3 separate regions of the Homo sapiens genome follow, and regions 1 and 3 are each linked to region 2. The links come from fine-mapping of genetic effects on gene expression. A gene starts in region 2. Each other region holds a variant in brackets. All regions are shown on one strand. Distances are between the middles of the regions.

Region 1 (9,704 bases), 110 kb before region 2:
GGTCATGTCTAGAGGTTAGTTGCAATGTGGAGCCTGAAACTGTATCAGTGCATTTTTCAGTCAATTATGTTAAAATCAAAAAGGTCTGCCCATACTTTAAATAGATTTTTTTCTTTTTTGACCCACATGATTTCATGACATCAGGCATTGGTCATTTGGAAAATATTGGTTCACTGGGCTGTGCAGGTCTTGTAAAGGTTGACACATTTGTATTCTACGTTTTAAAAAAAAAAATCCATATTCATTAATATCACCACAAATTGCCCCAAAATGTCTTTAAGTATTCAAAAGCTCACAAGCTCATAGTGGAGAATATAAGCTTTTCAAAATTTTAATTTCAGCTTAAAAGCTTGAATGTTATCATCACCAACCAACATTGTCAGTTGTTTGGCTGAGGCTGGCTCACTTTGCTGATTTCCAGGAGAGGCCTGCCCAGCCCTGGACACCTGTATCATGTGCATCCTTCCTCCCAGCACGGGTGGCGGTCCATGAACACAGCAGCCGGCTGATAACCCAGGGCTTGTCATGAGTGATTTTCTGTGAGGCAACTGTCTACTCCGGTGTGTAGTGGGAGTGTTTTGTGTGTGCTTCCCATTTCCACAAAACGTTGAAAAGTCAAATCCTCAAGAGTCAAGATTTAGTAAAACTAAAATGAAACTGGCATGAAGAAAACCACGTGTGCATGGCGGTGAAGAAAACAATACCTCCAGCTACTGTGTCTTCACGTGAGGGGCCAGCAGTTTAACTCATCACCGCTTTTTGTAACATCATCATAAGTATCAACATGTTTTTTAAAAAAGGGCAAATTTATCTTAGTAATCTAATTTTTAAAATAGTTTTAACCTCAGAGACCTACCTCACACCCAAGGGTCCATACCAACACTTTGAGAACTGCAATATTAGATCCATACAAGTACCACAGGTGATACTATTCTTGGATGTCAACATCCTTTCCAAGGAAATAGAGCCCATGTTCAGGGGAATAGAAACTTAGGAGACATCTAGGACATTCAGGGTGAGCAGGATTCTAAGCTACCATCTGAAAAATCAGAAAGTTGCGCTGCTGTGGAACCAGGCTCAGCACCACAGATTCTGGCCTCTTGAGTTCCATGTCCCTCACGCCACTGTGGTCCCTTCACGGCACTGTTGGCTTCTTGCTAGATGCGTGTGCTTGTGGGAATACTAAACTCATGTGCCTATATGTGAAAATGTCAGAATACACAACCAGTACAAGTAACCAGGCTGTGTCTCACCGAAAAAGCTCCCCAAGATCATGTACTAGCTACTAGTCACGACAAGAAGACTTGGTAACAAAACGCTGCGATGAAGAGAAAAAGCCAGGGCTTTCCAGAAGCAAGTCTCCATGTTGTTCTTACCTGTACTTCAAAAGCAGTTTCAGTATCACTGAGCGGATGACAGGAGTCTTATCCACAACATCATTGAATGGAGAGAGAGATTTTGTGTGTTCACAGTGTCCTTAAACCAGAAAGAAAAAGGCAGCTCACTGCATGAGACATGCAGAAGCGAGATGAAGAAATGAGGGGCTAGGTTTACAGGAAGAAAGCAACCTACTCTGGGCAGCATCTCTTAAGCGCCCCTTTTGGACGAAGAGGAGAGAGAGCAGGCTCTCAATCACTTCCTTCTCAGGCGGAGCGTTGTCCTTGAAGCAAATGGTGGACACCAGGTCTACGAAGAAACTGTTGCACATCTGCCGGAAGCGGGCATGCTTTTCAATGGCTTCCCTTAGAACACGAGAAACAGAAGACAGGTGGATGGTGTTTCCCAAATGCCTCCTTACAGAATGACTTGAGATTTGCACAGCATTTCACTTTTTTTTTTTTTTTTGAGACGGAGTTTCACTCTTGTTGCCCAGGCTGGAGTACAGTGGCGCGATCTCCGCTCACTGCAACCTCCACCTCCCAGGTTCAAGTGATCCTCCTGCCTCAGCCTCCCAAGTAGCTGGGATTACAGGCACGCACCATCACGCCTGGCTAATTTTGTATTTTTAGTAGAGATGGGGTTTCACCGTGTTGGCCAGGCTGGTTTCGAACTGCTGACCTCAGGTGATCCACACACCTCGGCCTCCCAGAGTGCTGGGATTACAGGCGTGAGCCACCATGCCTGGCTGGCATTTTACTTTTAAATTGAAAGATTCAAGTCACTCCTCTCACCCGTTAGAGCTAGTCTTCAAAACCTCAGCAGATGATATTTACATGCATCCCTTTCTGGAAACACTTTGATCATTTGGACCCGGCAACAATACCCTTCAATATCCCAAAGTATGTCAAAGAACCCATCCACTGGGCTTGCCTGGTGCCCCACTTTTAGGAGGCCTGAGAAGGGGGGAAGGGGAAGGAAAGAAAACCAACCACTCACAGAGCCGGGCTGAGGCCTGCTGAGTCCAGAGAGCCAGAGCTGCTTTTAACCAGCTCCAAAAAGCTAGACAAGAAGTGGGTTGATCCTCAGGTCAGTGACTGTGAATGATACTGATGCATTAAAACCAGTGGCGTCGGCCAGGTGTGGTCACTCATGCCTGTAATCCCTGCACTTTGGGAGGCCAAGGCGGGTGGATCACCTGAGGTCAGGAGTTCGAGACCAGCCTGGCCAACATGGTGAAACCCTGTCTCTACTAAAAATACAAAAATTAGCCGGGCATGGTGGTGCATGCCTGTAATCCCAGCTACTTGGGAGGCTGAGGCAGGAGAATTGCCTGAACCCAGGAGGTGAAGGTTGCAGTGAGCTGAGATCGTGCCACTGTACTCCAGCCTGGGCAACAGAGTGAAACACTGTCTCAAAAAAAAAAAAAAAAACACTGGCGTCTACATTCCTTGGGCCTCTGGTGAGGACCTTTGTTAAGACTTTCTGGCTTAGTTCCTCTGAATTTGTTGTCTGAAATCTGTATGTGTATGTCTTGGGGAGAGAATAATCTTGAGATACCAGATATTTATGAAAGTACGTAAGTGGCGTCTCTTATGATAGTTCTCTGAGGTCAGGTTTTCTACCAAATGAAGGTTAATAGAGTTTATATTTCTGAATATTGTGTTTGCCAAAAAAGGAAAATGAAAAAAAGGATGCTTTCTTGAGAGAAAGGGTGTTGTACCTGTGCGCTTGGGAAACAGCTGGAGAGAATTCGTCTGGCAAGGCAGTTAAACAGTAGGGGCATATCATCTGCTCTGAGGCAAACCAGGCCCTGAGGCAGCGCAGGCAGTGCACGTGGTCGCAGGGCAGACAGACGGGGTCCTTTGCATCTCCCAGGCAGATGGAGCACGGCTGAATCCCAAACCTAGAATCCAAGAAGGGCAATCAGTTCTGAAGCAGAGAAACTGGCCAGAAGAAGTGAAAACCACGAGAGGTTCAGAATTCTCGCCTTCACAGATCCAAACCTAAGGTCTCACCTGCTGAGGGTCTTGCTGGCTGTCTCCTTGCATTCACAGAGAGTGCGCATCACGGCCTCAAAAGGCCCGTGCGTCTTCACGTCAGAGTTCTCTCGAAGACACTGAAGAAAGGCAGGGACAGGAGTCATTAGCAGGGGGGAGGGCTGAGGGCGGCCAGGCCGGGCGACAGAGGGAGCACCACATTCAGGGCCAAGGCTGCGCCGTGTGTGTGGGGTGTGGGGTGCGAGGCCTTTGTGATCCTGTGTTTAACGCTTGAACTCTGAATGCTCGTTTTGTGATTATGCTGCTTGTCAGGGGACTACATTCTCAAGTTACGATTTTCCCTCTTCTTTTTCTTTTAAGGTCTCCTCCGCTCTCACTAAGATATTTCAAACTTTAAGTAATAATAATGACCATCTGTATACCCCCCACCAAGCTTTAAGAAATCTCAGCATTTATGGAATATTTGCTTTAGATCATTTTTTAAAATTTTTAAATTTTTTAAAATTTTCTTTCAGCCTCCCAAGCTGCTGCGATAGATCATTTTTTAGAGAAACAAAACATTATGCATATAGTTACAACTTCACATCCCTCCGTCCCTCCCCAGAGATAACTATATTTCTAAATGTCTGCTTTTAGGATAGCTGTAAGCATATCTGAACATGGAGTTATTATTTTGAATGTTTTAAAACTTGATATCAATGATACCACGTTGTATAAAGGCTTCTGCAACTCATTCTCTTCATGATACCTTAGGTCCAGATCACTCCTGTACCCACTGATAAAGACACCAGTTACCTGTCTGCTGGTTAATGGGCATTTAGGTTTTTTGCAATTCCTGACAGTCCTGTATTCAACATTCTTGCATATGTCTGAGAGCAAATGAGAAGTTTCTCTAGGATATAGTTAGAAGTGGAAACACTGGTTTTTAGGCAATACACATCATCACTGTACAAGATAGTTTAATGGCTGTACTAATGGAATTTGATGGGCAGGCATGATGTTGGTATAGACATCTTAATATTATGTCTACCTTGGGCATTGTGAGCTCAAGGAGAGTTCCTTCCTGTTCCAAGTTTGACAAGGGTATTTCTTTCCAAATAATTTTATCAAATGCTTTCTCTCTACATTTTGAAATGATCATATAGAGTTTATCTTTTAATTTATATAACTGATGACATTTACAGATTTTTTTTTTTTTATTTTGAGCCATCCTTGAATTGCTGGGATTAATCTTACTTGGAAGTGATGTGTGTATTTTTAATATCCTAATAACTTTGTTAATCAACAACCCAATTCAAAAATGGGCAAAGGACTTGAATGGACATTTCTCCAGAGAAGACAGCAAATGCCCAACAAGCACATGAAGGATGCTCATCATAACTAGTCATTAGAGAAATGCAAATAAAAACCACAATGAATTATCACGGTGGCCATTATGAAAAAAATCAGATAGTAACAGGTGTTGCCCATGATGTGGAGAAATTCAGACCCTGGTGCCTGGCTGGTGGGGATGTAAGAAAGATGCTGCAGCCCCCGTGGAAAACAATACAGTGCCTCTGCATAAAGTTAAACAGAGTTATCAAATGATCCAGGAATTCCCCTTCAAGGTACATATCCAAAACAACTAAAAGCCAGCCATGCCCGCAGTCCCACCCGTGCCATCCTGCAGCAGTTCCGTCGACAACTTCCTGCCCGGCCGAGGGAGCCAGCCTCACGGCGGAAGGCAGGGCTTTCCCCCAAGCCTCTTGTTTCAAATGGTCCCAAGGGCTGCTCTTCAGCGGGGGCTGGGTAGGGGTACAAGTCAGGCTTCCAGCAGGAAAACTAACGAGGTAAGGTCTTTGGCTGTGGTTACCTGCACAGAGATCTGACTGGAAGGAAATAAACCAGAAACCCAGTAAGTTTCTGAGGCCATTTTATCGCCAAAAAAAACCCTCCCCACGTTCCTAACCTCCCAAATCCTGTGGGCATGTGAGCAGGCAGGGGCCAGCTCCTTTACCTTTGGGTTTATGGGCACCTGGCCCTTATGACCCACGCTGGACCTGGCTGAA[A/C]GCCCTGTGCATCTCCCAGAGCGCCGAGACATGATGAGACTTGGAGAGGCTGCATGCTGTGTGGGTGTGGGGAAAAGGGTGGAAGGGGGGCACCGGCTGTGTCCTACTATCCTCTCTCCGCCTTTTCCTTCAGCAGAAGAACTCAAGTTCCACCTGGAACATGACCATGCCACGAAAAACTCCTCAGTTTCTTGCAACCAGATAAGGCCGAGTGCCTAAGTTTAGGACCACGAGACACGAGCTGGTGTGGCGTGTGCGTGTCCGGGATTGGGCTCTTAAGGAAAACGGCCTGTCCTCTACCTCCCCTGCTTTCTGTCCCACAGGCTGTGACGCCAGGCCACGGGGTGGAAGCTGAACATTAGGGACAATGAAGGGACAAGACGGAGCGTGGGCACCTGACTCCGTGCCAGCCTCCGGGGAGCTGGTACCTTAGCCTTGGGCTGCTCATACCCATCCTGGGTGGGAAATCAGCTGATACTGTGTCTAAGCCGCTGATGTTTTGATAGGTCAGAGTCAACACATCCAGCATCCATGCTGGCCTCCTTTTAGTAAACCTTCCTGTGCTCCAAAGGTCGGACAGCCAGCGCTGCCTCTTCCAGACCCCCTGGCGGTGAGGGCTCTGGATGTGCTCACGTGAAGGTCACGGGTGCGGGTGAGGCAGAGGCTGAGGCTGTGTTTGGCTGAGTGGCCACTGTTGCTGGACACCACTGCGTGGCCACAGAGGGGCATCACTGTAGGGTCACAGGTTTCTTTCTGCAGACCACCCCACATTAGTAGCTTTATGAAGGGTGTTGAGTGACAGGCATGGTGGCTTCCTGTTCCTTGGTTCTGTTGACAGCACTGTTTTGAAGACCCCAAACCCCGGTGGCATTCTCTGACATCCTTGTCTCCATGACTATGAAAATGGTAACAGCTTCCACAGATGGCCAGGCTAGTGGTCTGTTCTGGGGTCACTCCAAAGGCCAGGTAATCCCTGCCGAAGGTTTCACAAGCATGTTCCCTGCGTCAGCCCCTTTCTGCACACAGTTCCTGGAATCACTTCTAAATGATATGCTCTGACTTAGCAATCAGCAGAGGGTAAATAATTAAACAATTAAACATGGAAAATGTAATGGCCTAGTGATGAAATCACCTTCCTTTGCATGTCTAGACAAAACGGTCAGAGCCAAAAGAGCGTCTCCCAGCCGCAGATCACTGTCAGTGCTGTTCTTCCTTTCGGAAAAGGGTGGATCCGTGCATGTGCTGAGGCCAGCCCAAGTACTCACCTTGTCTAGTAAGAAGACGTGCTCGGTCACCAGCCCCTGTAACTCGGGGACGCGGCTCTCGGTTCCTAGGAGCACGTGCTCCACGAAGAGTGCGGTGGAGAAAATCCGACTCCACTGGGCTCTGTCAAAAGAGGGCGCCACTCACTCACTCACTCGGCTCCCACCAAGGAACCCAAGGGTGAAACGAGGAGGGAGACGGGAGAAGAGATGCGGGACCCGGGGTCCAGGCCCAGCGGCTGGGATTACAAGCAAGCCCTATGTGACATACTTCCTGGCCCGCCCCCAGCTCTCGCTCTCAGACGCTCAGCTTAGCTGGGACTCGGTGTCCCACTGTGATGCCTCTGCATGGGGTACCACCACAACCCGCTCACTGCATGATCCTGCGCCTGTCAAGTCCCACCTCACCTTTAGGGAAGTGGACTCTGGCCCTGAGGGCCTGTCCTGCTCTGTGCACCTGCCCGCCCGGGGTGTCCTTTCTACCACAGCATTTCTCACACGGCATCACAATAGCCCGTCTGCCTTTCTACGGCCCCAGTACACAGTGCGCTCCCTGAATGCACAGCCGCCTCTCGTGTCTCCAGCACCCTAATGAGACGCCTGGCACTCACTAAGGGTTCGGCAAATGCGGAGTGAACGGGTGAGGACGGAGCCCCTCCCATGGCAGGAGCACCTGCCCGTCTTCTCATGGACATGCCTGGCACTTGGCAGGCTCCTGGTGAGCGCGCGCCAGATGAAGCAGTGGGTGAGGGCTCCTGGGTCTCACCTGACTTCCCTGATGACAGCCTGGGCCAGGCTCCCGCTGCCTTGCATGTGCTCATCGGAGCAGATGAGCTCCAGCGGCATGGAAAGATTCTTCACCAACTGTAGCCACGCCTGGGGACTGGGCTTCAGGGTGTTTCTTGTCAGCATCTCCGTGCAGGCCATTGCGGCAAATGCGTCCAGGGTCTGGGGAGACGGACAGCAGGGCGTGGCTGAGCGGTGCCCCTCCCACCGGCCCACCAGAGGCCCCGGCTGTTAGCTGCATGTATACTTGTGTCCCAGGCTTGCGACCTAAACTTTCATTGTCTAGGATGTGAGAAGCGTCAGCGAGATGTGTCCTTAACATCTCTGAATTCAGCTAAGGTATGTGCCTTGTGAAGAAATCTCCCACTTGGAACACAGCCCCAGAAGCTCTCCATTCCCAGAGTGGAGTTGGAAGCACCACAAGGCTTGCTCAGGGCAGGCGGAGGAGGGCCATACCATCTCACATCCAGCCAGCTCATGGTTCCAACGGGCTTCCATCAGGCTGTGGAGAACCTGAGGGTAGATGGTCAGGATTCTGGAAAAGTTCTGCAGACGGCTTCTGAAACGCTGGTAGGCAAGGTGCACCCACGGTAAGGAAACCTCTTCCTCGGGCGCTTCTGACGCCGCTTTCAGTTTCCTAGTGCAGGACCACAGAGCCATCTGCAGAAACTGGGATTCAAAAAAGCTTTTAGAATATATTTTTAAATTACAAAAATGGTATGTTTTCCCCGTGGGAAATCCGAACTATTGGAAAACCATAAAAGAGGAAATTAGAAACCATGTGTGCTATTCTGTCCCGTTTGCTTCTGTCCAGTTTTCTATCTGCCTCTCCTCCCACGTTAAGGTCACCGTGTCGTCTGGGCTTTTTGCCACTGAACATGACATCATGAACTTTCCCTATGACTGAGTATACTTGAAAAACATGGTTTTAATGGCTGCTCAATAACCCATCATACGGCCATACTTTAATTTGCCCATCCTGTATTTCCGGACAATTAAACTATTTCTTATTTTTCGAAGCAAAGCTGAAAAGGACATCCCTGTGAACCAAATATTTGTCCACATCTCCAGTAGTTTCCTCAGGACAGAGTCAGCAGTTCAGATCGGATAAGGTGCTCAACTGTTCTGCCACGCAGCCCTGCAGGGCGCCCACTGTGCACGCTACACTGTCAGCCGCGTGGCCTGGCTATTTCTTTGCAGCACTGGCCGGCGGCTGTTGTTTTTAAAAATCAGCTTTGCAAAATGAATACGTAAACATGATATCTAAAAACTGTTGTGTTGATTTGCTATTAATAGTAAGGCTAAGCAATTTTTCAAATGTTTCCTGGATGTTGATATGCTTAATGAGATTATAAAATTGTTGTTTTATAACGTTTACCCATTTTTTAAAACTTAGGGTATTTTCTTATTGATTCCTAAGAATATTAACCTCTAGTCATATTAGCTGTAAGGATGTTCTTAAATTTGTCACTCTCCTTTTTTATGTACTGAAGTTTAAAATTTTTAGGTAGTCAAAAGTATGACTTTCTATTGAATTTCACTTGTTTATTCTTACCCTGTAGGGTTAGTTACGTATTTAATTTTTTTCAAGAGAAACTCAACATTTAAAAAGAAGCTATGTCAAGGAAATTGGAGGTCTTCTCATGTTCACAGAAAGCTCCGTGTTTTAGGAGCCCCTGGGCGGTGGACTGAGGGTGTAGCACTGAATATTGAGAGGAGACTGGGCGACCCCTTCACCCACCGGCACCCTTCGCTGACCATGTTCTGTTCCCAGACTTCACAGCACCAGCTCCAGGCAGCTGAGGAAACGTCTCCGTGTCTGCATCCAGTCCCCATCATGCAAGCTCTACACCTGACCCTTAGCCAGTATCTAAACATCTACCTTTAATTCCTCCTCCGTTGACACACGCATGGTCAAGAGAATGAAATCCTTCAAGTAACACTGAAGAAGTTCCTGCTGCGGCTCTCCATGGAGCTGGGCAAGAAACCTGCCCAGAGGAGTCTGCTGAAAGATGTCCACGAACTTCTTGGGCAGTCCTGCAGAGAGGAAACCAAGGAGCGGCCTGGAGTGCGTCTAAGTCATGGCGCTCCCCTGCCTCCAGGGGGCTCCGGAGTGAAGGGGAATGGGGACGCCTTGTTGAATGGGAGCTCGTAGACAAAGGGGTACCAACTGCCTGATTTTGTAGGGAATTGAAGGAATAGTCACTGTCTAGACATTTAGGATATTTTTC
Region 2 (10,024 bases):
AGTGGGACAATCATGGCTTACTGCAGCCTCGACTTCCCAGGCTCAAGTGATCCTCCTGCTCCAGCTAATTCTTGTATTTTTTTTTCTTTTTTTTTTTTGTAGAGATGGGGCTCCACCATGTTGCTTAGGCTGCTCTCGAACTCCTGGGCTCAAGCGATCTACTCACCTCGGCCTCCCAAAGTGCTGGGATTACAGGCGTGAACCACCACGCCTAGTAAGGTGGGCCACCTTTTGATCCATGTTTCAGCCAACCAAACAAAGACTCAGAGGCCTTCCTAACTCTACCAGCTGCAACATGAAATGCATAATCTCTGCTAGTGGGCCCACACTACTAAACTCAACCTGACTCAACTTTATATCATTTGGAACTCAATGTCTCCAGCCTGGCCATGGGCTTCCCATGTCCCCATCCCAACTTGAAGGATCCCTTCCTTTGCCACCCAATGTCCTCACTTTTTTTTTCTTGTAATACAGAGATGGAGTCTTTCTACATTGCCCAGGCTGGTCTCAAACTCCTAGGCTCAAGTGATCCTCCCACCTTGGCCTGCAAACATGCTGGGGTTGTAGGTGTGAACCACGGCATCCGGCTTAAGTGCCCCCACTTTAACAGCAGACGCCCTGCATGCCTGGAAGCTCAGCTTTCATTTTAACTCAGCTAATCGCGTGAGAGCTGGTGCTCGATTTTCTACAATTTCAACCCTGTGGCTACAGGAGAGAAGATTCTGATCCAGGGCACACTAAGAAACTCTCAGATCATTTATGCAGAGCTGCAGCCCAGACATCGAATCCCTGAGTTCATCCTTTTCACCACTTTCTCAGTGACGCTGGGGGCAACCAGCCAGCATCACTGTATTTCTTGGTTTTCGATAAATGTTCAAAAGCATCATGTACAGAGTCACCAAATTCCTGGCCTCTTACAAGTGGTGAATTAGGAGTCTCAAGTGCATTTGCTTTGCATGCCTCTAGAAACAGTTCATGCTGCGCACTACCAGTGCTCTCCGCACTATTATTAATAGAAGTGGAGCCCTTAGGCTGGGCGCGGTGGCTCACGCCTATAATCCCAGCACTTTGTGAGGCCGAGGCGGGTGGATCACCTGAGGTCAGGAGTTCAAAACCAGCCTGGCCAACATGGTGAAACCCCATCTCTACTAAAAATACAGAAATTAGCCGGGAGTGGTGGTGGGTACCAGTAGTCCCAGCTACTTGGGAGGCTGAGGCAGAAGAATCACTTGAACCCGGGAGGCAGAGGTTGCAGTGAGCTGAGATTTCGCCACTGCTCTCTAGCCAGAGCAACAAGAACAAAAAAACTCCCTCTAAAAAAAAAAAAAAAAACAAACAAACATGGAAGGACTGGGGCTCACACCCTTGAAGGACAACATCGGAGAGACCCCATGGCGAGCAGCTGGGCAAAGACTGAAAGAGGGGAAGGAGGGAGCCAGGCCGCCCTCTGGGGAAGGGTGGTGCAAAGGCCCTGCGGTGGAAGCACACCTGGTGTATCCAGGAAGGGCCAGAAGGTGGTGGGCTCTGGGGACAGGAGAGGGAGCCAAGAGGAATGGGGTGGGCAGCCGTCTATGTAGGACCTCGTGGCCACCGTAAGGGCTCCTGCTTGTCCTGAGTTACAGCGGGGGCAGGGGCGGATCTTGTAAGGGGGTCTGTGGTTTGACTGTCTGCTGTGCTGAGCAGGAAGCAGGAAGGCAGCATGCAGCGTGGAGGCGGGGAGACCAGCAGGGCCCTCTGCATGTGGGTCATGGAGGAAGGAGAGGGCCCCGGGGTGATGGGTCCGATAGAAGCAGCTGGAAGAATGAGGTGCCCTCACCAGTGGAGGTGGGGCTGGGCTTTGGACACAGAAAGGCTGAAGGTCTGGGGGCTGCTAGTTTTAGGGTTGGTGTTTAAAACCCGGGAGGAGGGGAACCAGTCTGAGGCCCCAGAAGCCAACAAAATTGAGAATGGACTCAAGATGCTCAGCAGGCAAGGCCCGCCTGACACTGCCCCGCTCCTGTCTCTCCACTGGCCTCCCGAGCCAGGGAGGTGCCTGGACAGGTCCTGGGGCCCCCTCACGGCCCCTCAAAAACTAACCCAGGCAGAGCTCTCAACCCCTGCAGAGCCTCAAACTCTGCTTCCCTGCAGCATTCTCTGAAACTCTCTATGAAGCCCTCAGCTCAGCCCGACACTTCTCATTCCCAAGGGGAAGAAAAACCGTGAGCTCTCTCTAGGAAATGAAACTGAAAATTTTCAAAAGCAGGAACCTCCAGCAAAGACCCCGACAAAACTTCTTGTTTTGTCCTCTCCCTGCCCTGGCCCTGCCCTCTCCTCCCACTCGGGTGGGCTCACTCAGGCCGGGCCTGAACGAGGGACGGAAGCACTGGGTGGTGGTCCCCTGGCTTGACCTGTGTGGGAGACTAATCTATGCCACCCCAAAACAGACTCTGTGGTCACTTTTGAGATGGCTATTCAGAGCCACAGAGCCTCAGTAGCCACAGAGGACCTCGGCCCCACCTGAGCTGCCTGCTGCCCAGGGTTTCCATTTCCTGGAAGGGAGGTGAGACATCTCCAGGGGTCCCCACTGCCCCAGCCTCCACCAGCACCCCTGGGCCTCACCTGCTATGGGGGCTGCAGGAGGCAGCCTCTCTCCGCACTGGCTGCAGAACTTGGGGGTTTCCTCCTTGGAGACATGCTGGCACGAAGGACACTCCATGGGTCCTGCTGGGACTGCCCTGCAGATCCAGAAGCAAGAGCAGGAGTCGCTGGCAGCCTGCTATATACTACATGTCCTGTCACGTGACCACGGCTTCAGTTTCATTTTCTGCGAAAGTGAAATCACAGCAGCCCAGCTGGTCCCCTGGTTAATGGAAACCCAACAGGAGCACAGCCCAAGCCCAGCCCCTCCCCGCTCTGTGCTGCCCCCTTGGCTCTCAAGCTTTTGCAGTCTCTGCCCTGGTCCCTCATTCAGCCAGCCTAGAACCATCCCTGCTGCTGAGAACATGGGTTGGGCTGGGTGGGGATAGGGGATGCTCCAGGCAGGCGTGGGGCAGCCACGTGCTGTTCGGCAGGGTCCCACGGCCTGCCCTGAGCAAGGCGCTCAGCCTGCTGATGCCTCACCCTCCTCATCCTCTTAAGGGGACTAAAGCACCTGCCCCACAGGTGATGGGGCCTGAGCAGGCAGCCCAGGGCTACTGGGCTGGCAGTCAGATTCCTAGTAATGGGGGGAGGCTGCCATCCACAAAGCGCGCCACTCTGCACTGACCACCTGCCCTCAGAACAGCCTCTGCGGTGGATGGCATCAAACCAGACCAAGGCCAGGACTCAGGCCTCCGGGGTCACTTCTTGCATCCAGGGTGAGAGTGGAGATGGCGTTTGGGCGCTTGGCCACCTAACAGTGGAGGACCTGACTCTCTCCCTCCCCAGTAAGAAGCCTCAGGGCACACTGGCCCACCCACCACCTTCTTCTGCTGGCTTGGAACCAAAGAACTCCACTGGGGCAGTGGCTGGAGCGGCAGCTGACTGGTGCCTTCAGCAGCCAGGAGGACACTCAGGCCCCCTCCCTGCCCTGGCCCTGCCCTCTCCTCCCACTGGGGTGGGCTCACTCAGGCTGGGCCTGAACGAGGGACGGAGGCACTGGGTGGGGTTCCCTGGCTTGACCTGTGTGGGAGACTAATCTATGCCACCCCAAAACAGATTCTGTGGTCAATTTTGAGATGGCTATTCAGAGCAACCACATACTCAGGAGTTCTGGGAAGCTATCCTTTTGTAAAAGGCTATAAAGGAAATCCACACCATGAAACAGCAGAATGGAGCAGAAGCTCTCTCTGAGGCCCCATTATCTGCCTAGAGGGATCTAGGAACGGTCCCAGGGACACACAAGAGGAGTGCCTGCGGCCTCGCCAGTTCCTCTGAGAGCAGCTCTGAGATCACCTGAGTGATTATCTGCACAACAAGACAACCCTGCACACCTCCCCTCTCCAGCCCCAAGCCCCTGTCCCAATGCCATAAAAACATCAATCATCTGTCTTCTGCAGTCTTCTCTTTGATGAGGTTCCCAATAGGTGTATGGGACAATTTGCATCCCTTTTCTCCAGGTCTGCTGCCCTTTTATTCCAGAGACTAAAATTATCTCTCCTTCAGAGTAGAAGGAGAGTTTAAAACTCCCCTACCCCTGCCACAGCCAAGCCCTGGCTCCCACCGTACCTCCTCCCCTCCACACTCTACCTGAAACAACCACCAGTGGACACTCCCTCCCTCAAACACCTTCAATGACTCCCCACCGCCCAGGCCTCTTTCTTTCCACCCGAAGTGTTTCCTTCTCCAATGCTACACTGGGGAACCACAGACCAGAAAACTCGAAAAATCCTCCAAAAAGCATTTTTTGTTTGTTTGACAGTTTCACCCAGGCTGGAGTACAGTGGGCAATCTCAGCTCACTGCAACCTCCGCCTCCCGGGCTCTAGCGATTCTCCCGCCTCAGTCTCCCAAGTAGGTGGAGTTACAGGCATGCGCCACCACACCCGGCTAATTTTTTGTGTTTTTAGTAGAAACGGGGTTTCATGTTGGCCAGGCTGGTCTCGAACTCCCGACCTCAGGTGACCCACCCGCCTTGGCCTCCCAAAGTTTTGGGATTACAGGCATTAGCCACTGCGCCCGGCCCCCTAAAGCATCTTATTGTTCCATCTGCTCTAGGGGCCGGAAGACACAAGAGAGAGCCCCAGGCACCCAACACTGTTGCATTCAATCCGCTTCCTGTCTTTTCTCTGACATTTTTTCCCAAGCACAGACACTGCCACCCAAATCAAAGCCCATCCCCCAACCACAACCAAAGTCAACAAGGTGGGGGCAGGGAAGGGCCACCACCATGTTTGCACAGCTCCTTCCCCTCCCGCCCTGGACTCCCCCAGGGCCCGGCCCGCCGGCTTGCAGGCAGCCATCCGGGAGGGGTGCCCACCCTGGCCTTGAGCCCCGCGCTCGGGCGACTTCGCCAAGTCGGAAGGACGCTGCGCGGTGCGGTTCAGACGGGGCGATGCCTCCCTCGTAAAAGTTAGGAGTCTGTTTTTGCAACTTCACTTTTCCGTTGTTGCCATTCGTACAGGCGCAGGATTCCCGGGCGGACCTGCAGGCCCGGGTCCGGCTGTCCCCTTCCACTACACCCCCCGTGCCCCGGCCACTTCCCGGGGGCAGCACTGCCGGGGCGCAAAGCCTCCTCCGCGCTCTGCGCTCCGGGGATGTCGCCGGGGTCCCAGGCGTGCCCGCTGCCCCCACCCCGACCCCTCCCGCAGCCGGGGAACAGGGTCAGTGGGCGCCGCGGGCGGGGCTGGACCGGGCACCCCGGCGGCGAAACCGAAACTTGGAGCCGGCAGGAAGAGGCGGCCGGGAGGGGCATCCGGACGCAGGCGCCGCTCCCCGGGACCCGGCCCGCCGGCCCGCGGGGCCCACTGTATCCTAGCCCGCTCCCCGCCCCGGGAGACTCTCCAGGCCCGCTCGCACCTGCGGCCCCCGAGCTCGCCGCCTGCCGCGCGCTGTCGCCCCTCGGGTCACGGGGCCCTGGGCCCCGCCCTGCCCGCCGCCGCCGCCGCCGGCCCCGCCCTGCCCGCCGCCGCCGCCGCCGGCCCCGCCCTGCCCGCCGCCGCCGCCGCCGGCCCCGCCCTGCCCGCCGCCGCCGCCGCCGGCCCCGCCCTGCCCGCCGCCGCCGCCGCCGGCCCCGCCCTGCCCGCCGCCGCCGCCGCCGGCCCCGCCCTGCCCGCCGCCGCCGCCGCCGGCCCCGCCCTGCCCGCCGCCGCCGCCGCCGGCCCCGCCCTGCCCGCCGCCGCCGCCGCCGGCCCCGCCCTGCCCGCCGCCGCCGCCGCCGGCCCCGCCCTGCCCGCCGCCGCCGCCGGCCCCGCGCAGGCGTGTGCGGAATTCCCCGCCGGTGGCGCCTCCCAGTGACTCCGGGCCCCCAGCCCCCGGGAGGCGCCTCGGGCCGCTGCGCGCCGGGTACAGACGCGGGAGGGGCCTCGGTTCCCGCCAGGCGTGGGGCGCATGCGGGTCTCCCGGAAGCCCAGACCCCGGGCAGGCCCGAGCAGCCGAGTGGGGCGGGACAGGCGCGCCCCCCGCCCCGGCGCCCAGCACCTCGGACAGTGTCTGCGGCCGCGCAGAGCCGGCGGCCAGCCTGGGAGCGGCCCAGAGGGCGCCCGGCGGGTGCAGTGGACGTCGTCAGCGCGCCGCGTGGGGGCCTTTGCAGATTAAGGGACCTCCGCGGCCCCGCGCGGAGCGCTCTGTCACTGATGATGGAGGGGCCACGGCGGTCCGCACCATCCCCCGTGCCTCAGTTTTCCCATCTGTGAGGCTCATGGTGTGACCAGGGACCTCCGTTTTAAAATCACCCACTTTCTTTTTCTTCCTTCTCCTCTCACCCCTTCATCCCGTCCCTCTCTGGACACTGCGCCCCTCTGCGCATTCCAGAGGGGACCCTCATCCTGAAACAATTCCCGGCGCGGAACCCCAGCTGAATGCTCCTGCTTGGGGCGGGGGGTCGCCAACAATTAGTCCAACATCCTCGACAGCCACCCCTCCTAACCGACAACTGCCCACGACAGCCATGGGAACAAGACACAGACCCTGCCCTTACCCCACTCCCCACGGTGCCCACGGCAAGTTTCCCTAGAAGAACTCGATGGCAGCCTGGGCAACATAGAGAGACCCCATCTCTACAAAAAAAATCATTTAAAAAAATTAGCTGGGCGTGGTGGTGCACCTGAAGAGGCTGAGGCAAGAGGATCGTTTGAGCCCAGGGAGCTCCAGGCTGCAGTGAGTCGTGATCATACCACTGCACTCCAGCCTGGATGACAAAGTGAGATCTTGCCTCAAAAACTAACAAACACACAAAACCTGAGGATAAATTTTTAATTTTAGGGTGGCACTTTATTTATTGTTTGTTTGTTTTTTGGAGACAGTCTCACTCTATACCCCAGGCTGGAGTGCAGTGGCGTGATCTTGGCTCACTGCAAACTCCACCTCCCAGTTCAAGTGATTCTCATGCCTCAGCCTCCCGAGTAGCTGGGATTACAAGCGCCCGCCACCAAGCCTGGCTAATTTTTGTATTTTTAGTAGAGACGGGGTTTCTCCATGTTGGCCAGGGTGGTCTCAAACTCCTGACCTCAGGTGATCCACCTGCCTTGGCCTCCCAAAGTGCTGGAATTACAGGCATGAGCCACTGCGCCCAGCCAAGGTGACACTTTAGAACGCTAGTTGGGCATCTTCTCGCTTTGCTGGGTCTCCAATTAAAACCTGCTTTTTCCTCCCACCAATCTTGACTGCACCACTGCACTCCAGCCCTGGCGACAGAGTGAGACTTTGTCTCTAAACAGTTAATTTCAACTGTTTCTTTTGACTTTTTCAGTATGACTAGTCGAAATGTTTAAATGACTTGCATGGCTCACGTTGGTGGCTTGCATGATTTTTCTGCGGGACAGTGCTGTCTCTGTGATCACAGTCTGCCCCTACCAGCTGCTGCAGCAGGTACACTAAGCCCTTGGAGCTTTGCCTCTTGCCCACGTAATAGTGCTGGGCCGGAGTGCTGCTCAGCACGGTGTTCTATCTTAACCTGAACATTTCCTTACTATTAATCCCAGGTCTTTAGATAAACTCAACCAATTGTAAACCAGAAAATGTTTAAATTTACCTACAGCCTGGAAGCCCCCTGCCCCCACCGCTTCAAATTTTCCTGCCTTTCTGGACCAAATCAATGTATTTCTCAAATGCATTTGATTGATGTCTGACGCTTCCTTAAAATGTATAAACCAAGCTGCACCCAACCTCCTTGGCACATGTTCTCAGGGCCTCCTGAGGGCTCTGTCACAGGCCATGTGTCAGGCCTCTGAGCCCAAGCTAAGCCATCATATCCCCTGTGACCTGCACGTATACATCCAGATGGCCTGAAGTAACTGAAGAATCATAAAAGAAGTGAAAATGGCCTGTTTCTGCCTTAACTGATGACATTACCTTGTGAAATTCCTTCTCCTGGCTCATCCTGGCCCACTGAGCACCTTGTATCCCCCACCCCTGCCAGCCAGAGAACAACCCCCTTTGACTGTAATTTTCCACTACCTACCCAAATCCTATAAAATGGCCCCACCCCTATCTCCCTTCACTGACTCTCTTTTCAGACTCAGCCCGCCTGCACCCAGGTGATTAAAAAGCTTTATTGCTCACACAAAGCCTGTTTGGTGGTCTCTTCACACGGACACGCTTGACACTGAGAACGTATGGTTTGTAAAGTATGACTCCCCAGACGCCTTAGGTAGGAATTTGGGCAAGATAAAAAAAATCAGAGTTTAGTCTTCAAACTGCAGAAATGTACCGTCTCACAGCTCTGGAGGCCGGAAGCCCAAGATCAGGGCGTTGGCAGCATTAGATCCTGCCGAGGCTATAAAGAGTATCCGTCCCAGGCCTCGCTCCTGGCTCCTGGTGATCACTGGTGTGGACTGAATTAAAAGTCCTGAAACTCTTTGACAGAGACTAACAGACCCTCTTTTGGCTAAAACACAACAACAACAACAAAATATTCAAGTCCCAGCCACAGCAGGACAGAGGCTGGCCGTGTCCCACCTGCTTCCCCGCCCCAGCCCTCTTACTAATCACCACTCCGTCCTATCAAAGGCTGAGGATGCCTCCACTAACTGTGCCCACCCGGCACCTGGTCTTGTTTCTGTGGTTCTGACGGGCCTTCTGCTGAGGATGCCTCCACTAACTGTGCCCACCCGGCACCTGGTCTTGTTTCTGTGGTTCTGACGGGCCTCCTGGGGATGTGCACTTCGTGGACTTGTACCCTACATGTCACCTTTTCATGTATAGGGCCTGATTATAATGCATTTAACTGTTAAGTTTTCTCCCCAAAGTGAACATGGGTCATATGTTGCTGTATTTTTCATACATGTAAGCCTAATACTCATGCATATGCGATTCCTTCATGAATATTCCTAGCCCCTCCTGTAACCTATTGAGCATGTATACTTGGCCAACCCTTTCAGAGTAAATTCCTGTCTTACTCCTCCCTCCCTCCCTCCCTCCCTCCCTCCCTCCAAGTGCCGGCCATGCTTCCCAGGCTACAAGAAGAGCCTCCGGCCGGGCTCAGTGGCTCACGCCTGTAATCCCAGCACTTTGGGAGGCCAAAGCGGGCGGATCACAAGGTCAGGAGTTCAAGACCAGCCTGGCCAATATGGTGAAATCCCATCTCTACTAAAAACACAAAAAAAATTAGCTGGGCATGGTGGCATGTGCCTGTAATCCCAGCTACTCGAGAGGCTGAGGCAGGAGAACTGCTTGAACCGGGACCCGGGAAGTGGAGCTTGCAGTGAGCCGAGATCATACCACTGCACTCCAGCCTGGGCTACAGGATGAGACTCCGTCTCAAAAACAAAACAAAATTTAAAAAAACCTCCTTGCAGGCTGCAAACCTTTATGAGAAACAAGTTCGCCTTTATTAACGTTTGAACCTCGACGTTCTTCAGCTGACAGTCGCTAGAGTTCCTTGGCTTGTCCCTGCCTTCATGTTCACAGCACATGCTCCATGTGTATCGATGACCAAATTTCCCTTTATAAAAACACCACTTCCAAATTAGCTGGGAGAGGTGGCGGGCGCCTGTAGTCCCAGCTACTCAGGAGGCTGAGGCAGGAGAATGGCCTGAACCCGGGAGGCGGAGCTTGCAGTGAGCCGAGATCACGCCACTGAACTCCAGCCTGGGCGACAGAGCAAGCCTCAGTCTCAAAACAAACAAAACAAAACAAAACAACAACAACAACAACAACAACAACAACAACACACCACTTCCAGCCTGGGCAACATGGCAAAACCCTGTCTCTACACAAAATTTAAAAATGTGGCTGGGCGCAGTGGCTCACCCCTGTAATCTCAACACTTTGGGAGGCCGAGGCGGGCAGATCACTTGCAGTCAGGAGTCTGAGAACAGCCTGGCCAACATGGTGAAACCCCATGTCTACTAAAAATACAAAAATTAGCCGGGCATGATGGTGCATGCCTGCAATCCCAGCTACTCTGG
Region 3 (10,024 bases), 160 kb before region 2:
GCCGTAGTTCCAGGGCTTTGCGTGGAGGCAGTGGTGTTTCTGGAGAGTTCCCACGAGAATAGGAGTCTACCCCACTCCACTCTCCTCCCTCTTTGAAGACCTCTCCTGTGTCCCCTGCCTTCCCTGGCCCTGCACTGTCTGTCCTGAGCCACAATATTGCAACAAGGAGAGGCTGAGCCACCGGAAACAGCCCATGCAGGTGTCTGTGAGATGCCCCTTTAGTGCCCCAGCCTCCCTGGGTGCTCACCTCGGTGTGGGTGGCCCGGGGAGTCCCAGCGACTTGCGGATGTGCTCTCGGGAGCAGATGTCAGCCTGGGGGAGACAGACGTGCTGCTGGGTGCTGAGCTGGTCTCTAGACCAGTTTCCCACCAGGAGCTGCTGCTGGCAATGCCTCCATCCCCCACAGAAGCCCACTCAGGACACACAGGTCACAGCCAGTTCTTCAGGCTCAGGAGCCGCGGCCCTGTCAGCGAGTGTGGGACAGGCATGCCTGGGACTTTGGGGTCAAAGCCCCGCAATGGCAGCTCTCAAACCGAGCTGGGCAGTCCCTGAAGGGCCTGAGTAGCTGGTGAGTGGACAGGCTGAGTGAGGGGGTCCTGGGTCTCCTCCCCACCAGTGGCAGTTGGAGCTGCTCAGCCTTCACTGGTTTCCAGTCTGTGCTTCCCTGTAGGCTCTGCGCAAGCCGAGGCTTCCCTGCTAACACTTGCTTCTCTGGGGGCTCTGAGCCCAGCTGGTCTGTCCTCTCCCTGACTAGATCAGCAGTAACCCCTGTCCCGTCTCCAGAATCACCAAGATAAAAGAGGGCGGTGGGCCACAGGCTGGGATGGGGGCAGACCCTAGCAGGGAGGGACACTGAACAGGGCTCAGGTCTGAGTGGGAACCCCCGGGGGCATGGGGGGTCTGGCCCTGGGAAGTCCCCCTGATCCCAGCTCAGATGAGCTTAGATTAGCTTCAGGGCTGCACGACTCATGGAAAGCAACGGCTAATCCCCCAGCCTGCTCCTGCTTCCATTCATGGGGGAAGTGGGGCAGCGGTAGGCGGGGCCAGCACCTCTCACCTTCCCCTGGAGCGGCCCAGCCTGGCCTGGCAGGAGAGCCTGGACCTGGCAACCAGGAGCGCCGCAGCGCCTGTGACCATGGGGCCACCAAGACGGCCCGGCGCGGAGCCAGGGAGAGAGCAGACCAACACTAACCCCGTCTGTGCTCTCCCAGGACCTTCTGGAACAGAGCAGGAGGTGAACCTGTTGAGAGGTGAGTGAGCTCAGGAAGAAAATGGACCGAGAGACAGAGCCAGCCCTGCAGGACACGATCCTCGGCTCACGCCCAACAGTAAGAAGCTGCGGGCTCCTGGTACGGGGTGGCTGCATATCCCAACTGGTTGCGGCTTTCCTTCCTCTGGAGGGTGGGCCCAGGATTTGGCAGGCTCTTTGCTGGTGCTAGGCACAGATCCTTGCTCTATTTCTAGATGCTTAAGGTACTCACAGGCCAGGTGTCCCCTCCCTTGCAAGGATGGGCCACTGTCCTACTCTGGGGCGCGCTGAGGCAGAAAAAGGTACAGGAGCTCCAGGAACTGTGCTGTCTGCAGCAGCAGCACGACCTAAAGTTCCTGTGGCTGAAGGCCTGGGGGACAGTTTCTTGGGTTCTCTCTCGGAAGACCACACGGCTGAGTTGGAATGGAGGAAGAAAGGCCTCTTTCCTGGGGGCTGGGGACACAGCTCACAGGCTTGAGAGTCCACACACCTGTGCCCTGAGCAAAGCCCTGCAAGGCTGTGGAGCCCGCTCTCAGACGCCACCACTGAGCACAGCTCCCCAGGGCGAGGGCCATTGTGGTATGTGGGCTGCTGCTGCCCCCTGGAGGCCACACTGCGCGCCAGCAGCCGGAAGGCCCCGGCCCGAAGGTGGTGGCCTGGGGGTTTTCCACCGGTGCTGCGGCTGCCCCAGGGCAGGCTGCAGGGCAAGCGGTGGGGTAAGATGGGGAAGGGGCAGACACCAGGGAGGCTCAGGGGCTGGGCTGCTGGAAGCAGCATGGCTTGTGCAGACCTGCGTCCACAGCCTCCACAGCACGCACAGCGGCCACCTAAAAAGGCCAATCTGCGGGCGCCCCGCTGCCAACTCACAGCCATCCAAGTCCCTGTGGGTGACGTCTGAAACCCTGGCGCACCCCAAGATGCTCACGGGCTCCCACCCACTCTGTACTTCACTGCCATCTGGCTCCGGCCACACCTTCCTGCTGAGTTTTTGTTTTTTAAAGTTTTTTTGAGATAAGGTCTTGCTCTGTCACCCAGGCTGGAGTGCAGTGGCCCAATCAGGGCACACTACAGCCTCGACCTCCTGGGCTCAGGTGATCCTCCCGCCTCAGCCTCCTAAGTAGCAGAGACCACAGGCACGCACCACCACACTTGGCTAATTTGTTTTTACGTTTTTTTTGTAGAGACGGGGTCTATGTTGCCTAGGGCGCCCTCAAACTCCTGGGCTCAAGTGATCCTCCCACCTCTGTCTCCCAAAGTGTTGGGGTTACAGGCGTGAGCCACCCTCCGGGCCCCCCATTTCTTGAGCACATCAAACTCCTTCCTGCCCAGGGCTGTCCTTCCCCTTCCTCCAGCGGGTCTCTTCCTAAGACTGACTTTTCTTGAACCCTCACTCTGTGGGCTTCTCTGGGACAGCATCCACCCGTGTCTTGTGGTCCCCTGGTCCTATCGAGGCTGTCTGTGGGCATCTCGTGCCAGCTGTCTCTCCCTGGCCCACAGGCTGAGTCCTTTCTCAGCTGAGCTGATGGCTTCAGCAGAGTTCTCACCCTTCCTGGGGGACCGAACACCAGTTTTGTGCTGGGTCCTGGGGCGGGCATACCCAAGTCCCCAGACTGGCGTCTCTGGGGCCTGCACAGCTTTCCTGCAGGAGCCTCCTGGCTCAAGTTCAGCTGCTCCCTCTGGGACCTGAGGGGCTGGCTGGGAACTGGCAGGACACCTCACCACCTGAGCTAACATCACTGATTCTCCAAGCTGGCCTGTATCTGGGTGCAGGAGGCTCAGAGAGGCTGGGAGGCTGAGTGCATGGGGTGCAGGGCCTGGGGATGAACTCTTGGGAGCCCTGCACCCCCCAGTCTACTGTCCTGACTGCAGGGCCCAGCAAGCTCTCCAGCAAGATGTCTGTGACCTGTCCTCGGCCCAGGAACCCCCGTCCTCATGTCACTGCACTCTGACCCCAGCTGAGCTGCTGGGGAGCCCTGAACAGCAGGTGGCAGGAAGCAGAGGAGCCTGTGCTGCCTCCCCGCATCCCCAGCACACCCACCTGGCGCACGGGCTCTGGGATCCGGAACCTGCAGCAGCAGCAAGTCAGGCGCACAGCGGCCTCCAGGCTCATCCTGTGGCCCACGGAGATGTAGAGGGGCCTGGTGCTGCGGTCGTGGCTCCTCAGGGCCTGTGACAAGGAAGGCGAGGGCTGTCCTGTGGGCTGGGCCACCGGGACCAGGGTCAGGACAGCCTCAGCAGCTGGAGCTCTGACAAAATGTCCTGGGGGCAAGGGGGAAGCTGAAGGGGCAGTGCTCTCAGGGGCCAGGGCCTGCCCACCCTCAGGGCGCCTTCCTGCTGCTTGTCCCTGGGGGAGGGTGGGCTCCCTCAGCACGGCTGGAGGAAAGAAACACAAACATCACACCCTGGACTCAGTCAGAGGCAGGAGGATGGATGGACGGGCAGGCGGGGGGTTGATGTGGGCAAGTGTGAGTGCACGCGTGTCTGCATGCACCTGTGTCTGCCTGCAAAGGATCCCCTACCCCGGGGCTTTGGAGGAGCTCAGGGCCCTAGCTACTCACCATTCCCAGGACAGTCCCAGAGTCTCCCAGCAGAGGGAATGAGTCTCCTCGAGTCTGCAGGAGTCGGATCTGGAAAATGGAGGGAAAAATGGGGAAAAAAACCCCTCTCTTCTTGGTGAAGGGCTGAAGGCAAGTCTCTATTTTTTGAGACGGAGTGTCGCACTGTTGCCCAGGCTGAAGTACAGTGGCGCGATCTCAGCTCACTGCAACCTCTGCCTCCCGTGTTCAAGCGATTCTCCCACCTCAGCCTCCTGAGTAGCTGGGACTACAGGCATGTGCCACCACGCCCGGCTAATTTTTTGTATTTTTAGTAGAGATGGGGTTTCACCATGCTAGCCAGGATGGTCTCGATCTCCTAATCGCGTGATCCACCCACTTCGGCCTCCCAAAGTGCTGGGATTACAGGAGTGAGCCACCGCAACCGGCCCAGGTCTCTTTATTTTTAAAACCCAGTCACTGGGCCAGGAAAGGGAAGGGGACTGATCTTGGAGGTGAGCCACAGCCCAGGCAAAGCCACACCACCTGAGACGACACTGAGCGTGCAGGCGGTGAAGTGGTCTTGTCCCTGAGCTGAGGGTGCTGCCCACAAGACCCTGTTCAAACCTGATGATGGGGCTTAGAACAAGGGCAACAATCTGCCCAGGGCCGCTGTGCCAGGCTGGCAGCCACACAGGTGCCGCCACTGCCCAGTGATGGGTGCTGAGCCCGCTTCCTTCCTGTGGCTTCTCTCCTGCTTTGGGCACATCTGACACAGCTCAACAGGCTGGTATTTCTGGCGGCGGTGGACTGGCTCATTGAGTGGGTCTAAGGTCCCCATCAACTCAACAGATTTTTATTAAGCAACTTCTCCATGCAGGCACCTGAGAGCTAGGAGGAATGAGAGACACAGTCTCTGCTCTCAGAATCTGCCATCCAGTGAAACAGCTGGGGGTGTCAACAGCTCCCTCCATTGTGAGTGTCTCACTCCCAGTGCCAACATGGGGTCCCAGAGGAGGAAGATGCAGGGGAAGGTGAGGTAGGAAGAGTGTGGGTGGCAGCTCCAGGCAGGTCTTGGCGGGAGGGGGGCCTGGAGGCTGTGGTACCTGAGCATGCAGGGGAGGAGACAGGGGCTGGGGCAAGGCGGGGTGGGGAAAGCACCAAGTGCGCCCGGGACAGCCTGGAAGCCCGTCCTGTCCCCAGTAACTGGAGGACTTAGCCCTACTTGGTGTGCCACGGTGGCTCAGAGGCAAGGGGGACCAGAGAGGCAGGCACACCCAGGAGGCAGGAGAGGAGCTCAGAGCGCCCTCAGCTGAGACAGGCAATGCAGCACCCAGAGGAAAGCAGGTCTTTCTTACTCCAGGCCACAAGCCAGGGATGAGGAGGGCAGCGTCAGCAGGCAAGGGCTGGTCCAGAAGTGTCCTCATGCCCAGGGCCACCACAGCCCCGCCACTGAGCTGCCGGGCATGGCCTGCAGCAGGCCCCTCCTCACCTTCTCCTTGTGCAGGGCGTTGTTCTCCAGCCCATCCACCTGCAGAAGTTTCTTGGCCACCCCAACACACGGCAGGTCTGTAAGGACGCCAAGGTGGCAGGCCACCCCAAAGCCTGCCAGAGAGAAAGGAGGGTGGGGTTGGGGAGGTGGGGCTGGGGCCTGGCACAGGGATTCAGGACAAGCCAGTCTTACCAAAAGCTTCCCTAAGTGAGCAGAGGTCTGTGGACAGGCAGAGGGCTGGGGAAACCAGATCTAAGTCCCAAGCAGACCTGGGCGAAAGCCCCCTGTGCCCGATGTCCTGGGTGCAAGGCCGTGGAGGAAGCCTCCTTCTCTCTGACACGGTCAGTGCCAGGGTCAGCACCTCGCTGGCGTGCTGGGATACTGCAGCTCTC[C/T]GGTCATTTCCTGCACCTCCCAGCTTCCTCTTCCCTCGACGGTGGCCTGCCAGCGCTGGCACGAGCATGTGGGTCGGCACATGACAACCCTTTGGCTCTGCACCCATGTGCGAGGGCAGCAGCCAGGGCCGAGTCACACTTGCTGGCCAGGAAGGCCCAATGTCACCCCTCCTGGGCCCTCTCTGGGTGCTGCTGCGCCGCCCGCAGCTCTGTATGTAACAGTAAAAGAGCCCATCTCCCTAGGCCGGGCGCGGTGGCTCACGCCTGAAATCCCAGCACTTTGGGAGGCCGAGGCAGGCGGATCACGAGGTCAGGAGATCAAGACCATCCTGGCTAACACGTGAAACCCCGTCTCTCCTAAAAATACAAAAAAATTAGCCGGGCGTGGTGATGGGCACCTGTAGTCTCAGCTACTCAGGAGGCTGAGGCAGGAGAGTGGCATGAACCCGGGAGGCGGAGGTTGCAGTGAGCCGAGATCGCGCCACTGCACTCCAGCCTGGGCGACAGAGCGAGACTCCGTCTCAAAAAAAAAAGAGCCCATCTCCCTCAGCCACGCTCCCTAGGCCAAGGTTCCTGGCATCAGTGGGGGCCTGGGTACACCTGTCTAGTTGTGGACAAGGGGCCTGACGGGCCATGCAGGTTGGGCGGCTGGCAGGGAAGGCCACTCTGAGCCCGGGCCCTGGGACATCTTTTGGTGATCAGGTCAGAACTGGATAGTGGCACCTGGAGATGAGCCAGCACAGGGCACTGTAGAGAAGGCAGTGGCGGACAGGAAAGAGGTAAGGGGTGAAGCGAAAGTAGACAGTCCTTTACCGGCGGTGGGGGAGGCGGGGCTGAGCGCACTGCGCGTCCCCGTTGCGCCGAGAAAGAAGCCATTGGAGGGGGCTGGCGGCAGAGGCCGAGGGCCCAGCATTTTCTGTGGGGGACGACAGAGGTGCCCTCTCCCCCCGCTCTTCCCCACAGTGCCCTCCCTGGACCTCCAAGAGCAGGATTACCTCGGTGGTGGAGTACCCCGTTTCCATCCACAAGAAGGACCTATGGAGCCACAGGGAGAGTCACAGTCAGCTGAGCTGCCCCTCGGCCCTCAGGACAGGGCCATCCCTGAGGCAAGAAGGGGGCACTGTCTCTGGGGTCCAGCTTTTTAGAAATCCTCATTCCTCTCTTCCAGGAAGCTCATGAGTCTCTCCCTGCCACTGTGGTGGTGGCGACCTGCAGCAGCCTTCCCTCCCCCAGGGGGAAGGAGGGACCTTTCTCTCGTCCTAGGGATGAGACACCTGCCTGGGGCATGAGGCCCGGCTCCTTCTCCCGCAGCTGCTGCACCAGCTCCAGCAAGAAGGGCACCTCTCGGAAGGCCAGGAAGCCCGACACGTAGGGGGCTGTGAGGCTGACCATGCGGCTCTCCTCATACACCACCTGACACCAGGCACGCAGCTCAGTGGGAAGCACAGCCTTCGGCCACCTGCTCCATCCCCAGTCCGTCCATGCCCTGCCCCCCTCATCCTTCCCTCTCCCTTACGTCACCCTCATGGCTCCCCTTCCCTGCCTCACCTATGAGATGATGGGTTTGGAAGAAGGAACTAGAAGATGTACCCTGCAAATTGGTGGTGGGCAGGTACCCCCGGGACCTGGTCCATAGGAGCAGACCCCCCCAGGACCTGGTCCGTAGCAGCAGCTCCCCCGGGACCTGGTCTGTAGCAACAGCACCCCCACCCCGCCCCCACCGGGACCTGGTCCATAGCAGCAGCCCCCTGGGACCCGGTCCATATGAGAACCCCCACCCCGGACCCGGTCCACTGGAGGAGCCCCAACTCCCAGACCTGATGTGTATAGTAGGAGCCCCTGGGACCTGGTCCATAGGAGGATTCCCTGGTATCTGGTCTGTATGAGGAGCCCCCAGGACCTGGTCCATAGGAGGATTCCCCGGGATCTGGTCTGTATGAGGATTCCCCGGGACCCGGTCCATAGGAAGATTCCCCGGGATCTAGTTCATAGGATGAGCCCCTGAAGCCTAGACTGTAGAAGGATTCCCTGGAATCTAGTCCATAGGAGGAGCCTCCGGGACCTGGTCCATAGGAGGATTCCCTGGGATCAGGTCCGCGGGAGCCCCCCAGGACCTGGTCTTCATCAGAAGCAAGGCTAAGGCTGCTGGCTGCATCACCTCTGCCTGCCCCTTGCTTTCCTGGTGTCTCCTCCTTTGTGTATTGAAGCCGATGCCCCACCCCACCCCTCCATGGGTTGTTGGAGGCTTAAAGAAGACACAGTGTTGGCCAGGCGTGGTGGCTCACGCCTGTAATCCCAGCACTTTGGGAGGCCGAGGCGGACGATCACCTGAGGTTGGGAGTTCAAGACCAGCCTGACCAACATGGAGAAACCCCGTGTTTACTAAAAATACAAAATTATCTGGGCGTGGTGGCGCATGCCTGTAATCCCAGCTACTCGGGAGGCTGAGGCAGGAGAACTGCTTGAACCCAGGAGGCAGAGGCTGCAGTTTAGAGCACAACATGGCAGGCCTGAGTCTCCTAACCTTGTGTTTTCCTTAGTCACACTGCCCTTAATGTGAAGACGTTTCCCACTATGTCCACATTCTGCAGACCTGTCTACCTTCCTGCAGTTTTGTTACTGAATCCCCCAAATCTCTTGGTGACAGCTTTCAAATCACAACTTCCACTCCTCACTTGTGGCTGGATCAATAATTAAACACACCAAAGCAGACGGAGTGCTCTGTATTAGCACAGAGGGTTGGGGATCATTCTCACAACATCTTCATCAATGACTCAATGGGGAAACTGATCAAATCTGCCCATGACCCAAAGTGGGGAGGGTCCATTCTGATAACAGAATTTGGGTTCACAGAGAAGCCAGCAGGCTGGATCACTGACATCCCCACAGAGTAAAAGTCACTTTGCACAGTGACATGTGGAATTCAAGTGTGGCCTGAGTTCCCACAGGAGGGGCGTGGCTGCTTACATCTGAATCTCTCCCATAATGTTATCATTCAGGTGACATTATGGGATGACTATGATGTGTAATCAGTATGATAATGACACTGTGGCTGTGGAGGAGAATGTCATTCTCAGGACAGGCCTGCTGATGTCTTCTGAGCTGTCACAGTCGCTGGGATGTACGGTACACACGCACACAAAGAGCGCATGTGCGCGAGAGAGAATATTCCAGAGCAGCAACAGCTGAACCTAAGTAGAAGGAATACAGGTGTCCAACGTATCCTTTTCCAATTTGGGGGGATGTATGTACATTTTCAAATTAAAAATCTGGGAAAAGAAAAATCACTGTATGATTAGCGTAGGGGGCAGGTCTGGATGACCAGCAATCTCAACATAAGCCAGTGACCTGGTGCCCCTCAAAAGCTACCAGTGTTTCCAGCTACACCGACTGAAATGGCGTGGGTGACAGTTAGGTCTAGGGACTTGGGTAGACCACATCCAAGTTCCTGCATTTGATTCTGAGTGCAGACGGAAAGATGGATTGTGTGAACGGAGGGCATGACCAGAGGGCCACTGACCAGTGAAGAAGCTGGACGTCATCGCAGCCTCTTGGGACAGTGTGGTCAAGGAGCAGGCAGCTGTTTCCAGCAGCAGAAGGGCTGACAAGCAGAAGGCAGGGAAGATCCGTTCTGTTTTGCTACCTGAAGGCAGAACTGATCGATGGGAGTCACAGACAAGTAGGAGTCAGCTCCCTGCGGAGCAGAACACACTAGCCATTGCTCAGCGTCCAGCACACAACAGGCTCCACCAGGCCTGTGGAGCAGCACACACCAGCCATCGCTCAGCATCTGGCATGGAATGGGCTCCGCCAGAGGCCTGCGGAGCAGCACACACCAGCCATGGCTCAGCATCTGGCACAGAACGGGCTCCGCCATCGTTTGTCAGGGATGCTAAGGACAGTGTTCTTCACGGTGGGAAAAGCAGGCCAGTGGTTCTCCAGCCCAGCTCTGCTTCAGAATCACAGGAAAGCTTATTTTAAAAAGCAGATTCTTATGCTATACTCTGGGAGAGTTTTTCCCCCAGTAAGTGGGGTAGGGCTCTGGAATCTGTTTTTTTTTTTTTTTTTTTGACAGAGTCCTGCTCTGTTGCTCAGGCTGGAGTGCACTGACGCGATCTCGGCTCACTGCAAGCTCCGCCTCCCAGGTTCACGCCATTCTCCTGCCTCAGCCTCCCGAGTAGCTGGGACTACAGGTGCCCGCCACCATGCCCGGCTGATTTTTTTTGTATTTTTAGTAGACACAGGGTTTCACCGTGTTAGCCAGGATGGTCTCGATCGCCTGACCTCGTGATCCAGCCGCCTCAGCCTCCCAAAGTGCTGGGATTACAGGCATGAACCACTGCGCCCGGCCTGTTTT

Which allele goes with the higher level. Alleles are on the strand shown, and positions count from the first base shown. SD is a standard deviation of normalised expression in the study named. Not every link is listed here.
With allele C in place of A in region 1, the expression in monocytes after interferon gamma of the gene that starts at base 5,525 in region 2 is lower (large effect, 0.77 SD a copy in Fairfax 2014).

Evidence for each region. PIP is the estimated chance that this variant, and not a neighbour inherited with it, causes the effect.
Region 1: its variant is fine-mapped to the expression of RNF213 in monocytes after interferon gamma (Fairfax 2014, PIP 0.95).
Region 3: its variant is fine-mapped to the expression of RNF213 in whole blood (INTERVAL, PIP 0.90).

Annotation. Positions count from the first base shown.
Region 1 is chr17:80,361,540-80,371,243 of GRCh38, reverse strand. RNF213 (ring finger protein 213) reads right to left here. Exons shown (of 68, transcript NM_001256071.3): 39 at 9,356-9,510; 40 at 7,930-8,142; 41 at 7,454-7,635; 42 at 6,691-6,811; 43 at 3,396-3,496; 44 at 3,101-3,283; 45 at 1,573-1,742; 46 at 1,377-1,476. The region is part of intron 1 of RNF213-AS1 (RNF213 antisense RNA 1); the gene reads left to right. Among named protein-coding and RNA genes, the nearest start is that of ENDOV, 49 kb to the left of the region's middle. The variant A/C (reference allele first, on the strand shown) is at 5,426.
Region 2 is chr17:80,256,353-80,266,376 of GRCh38, reverse strand. RNF213 (ring finger protein 213) reads right to left here and starts at 5,525. Exons shown (of 68, transcript NM_001256071.3): 1 at 5,475-5,525; 2 at 2,599-2,803. The coding sequence starts at 2,695. RefSeq lists enhancers at 707-756, 1,415-1,494, 2,350-2,906, 2,645-2,934, silencers at 2,856-3,073, 4,648-4,787, 5,168-5,517, 5,797-6,146 and a cis regulatory region at 8,893-9,113.
Region 3 is chr17:80,418,884-80,428,907 of GRCh38, reverse strand. ENDOV (endonuclease V) reads right to left here. Exons shown (of 10, transcript NM_173627.5): 3 at 6,946-7,080; 4 at 6,663-6,702; 5 at 5,276-5,388; 6 at 3,808-3,876; 7 at 3,288-3,416; 8 at 248-312. It overlaps MIR4730 (microRNA 4730), which reads right to left and starts at 9,490; the gene lies at 9,415-9,490. RefSeq lists enhancers at 2,954-3,453, 3,454-3,955. The variant C/T (reference allele first, on the strand shown) is at 5,668.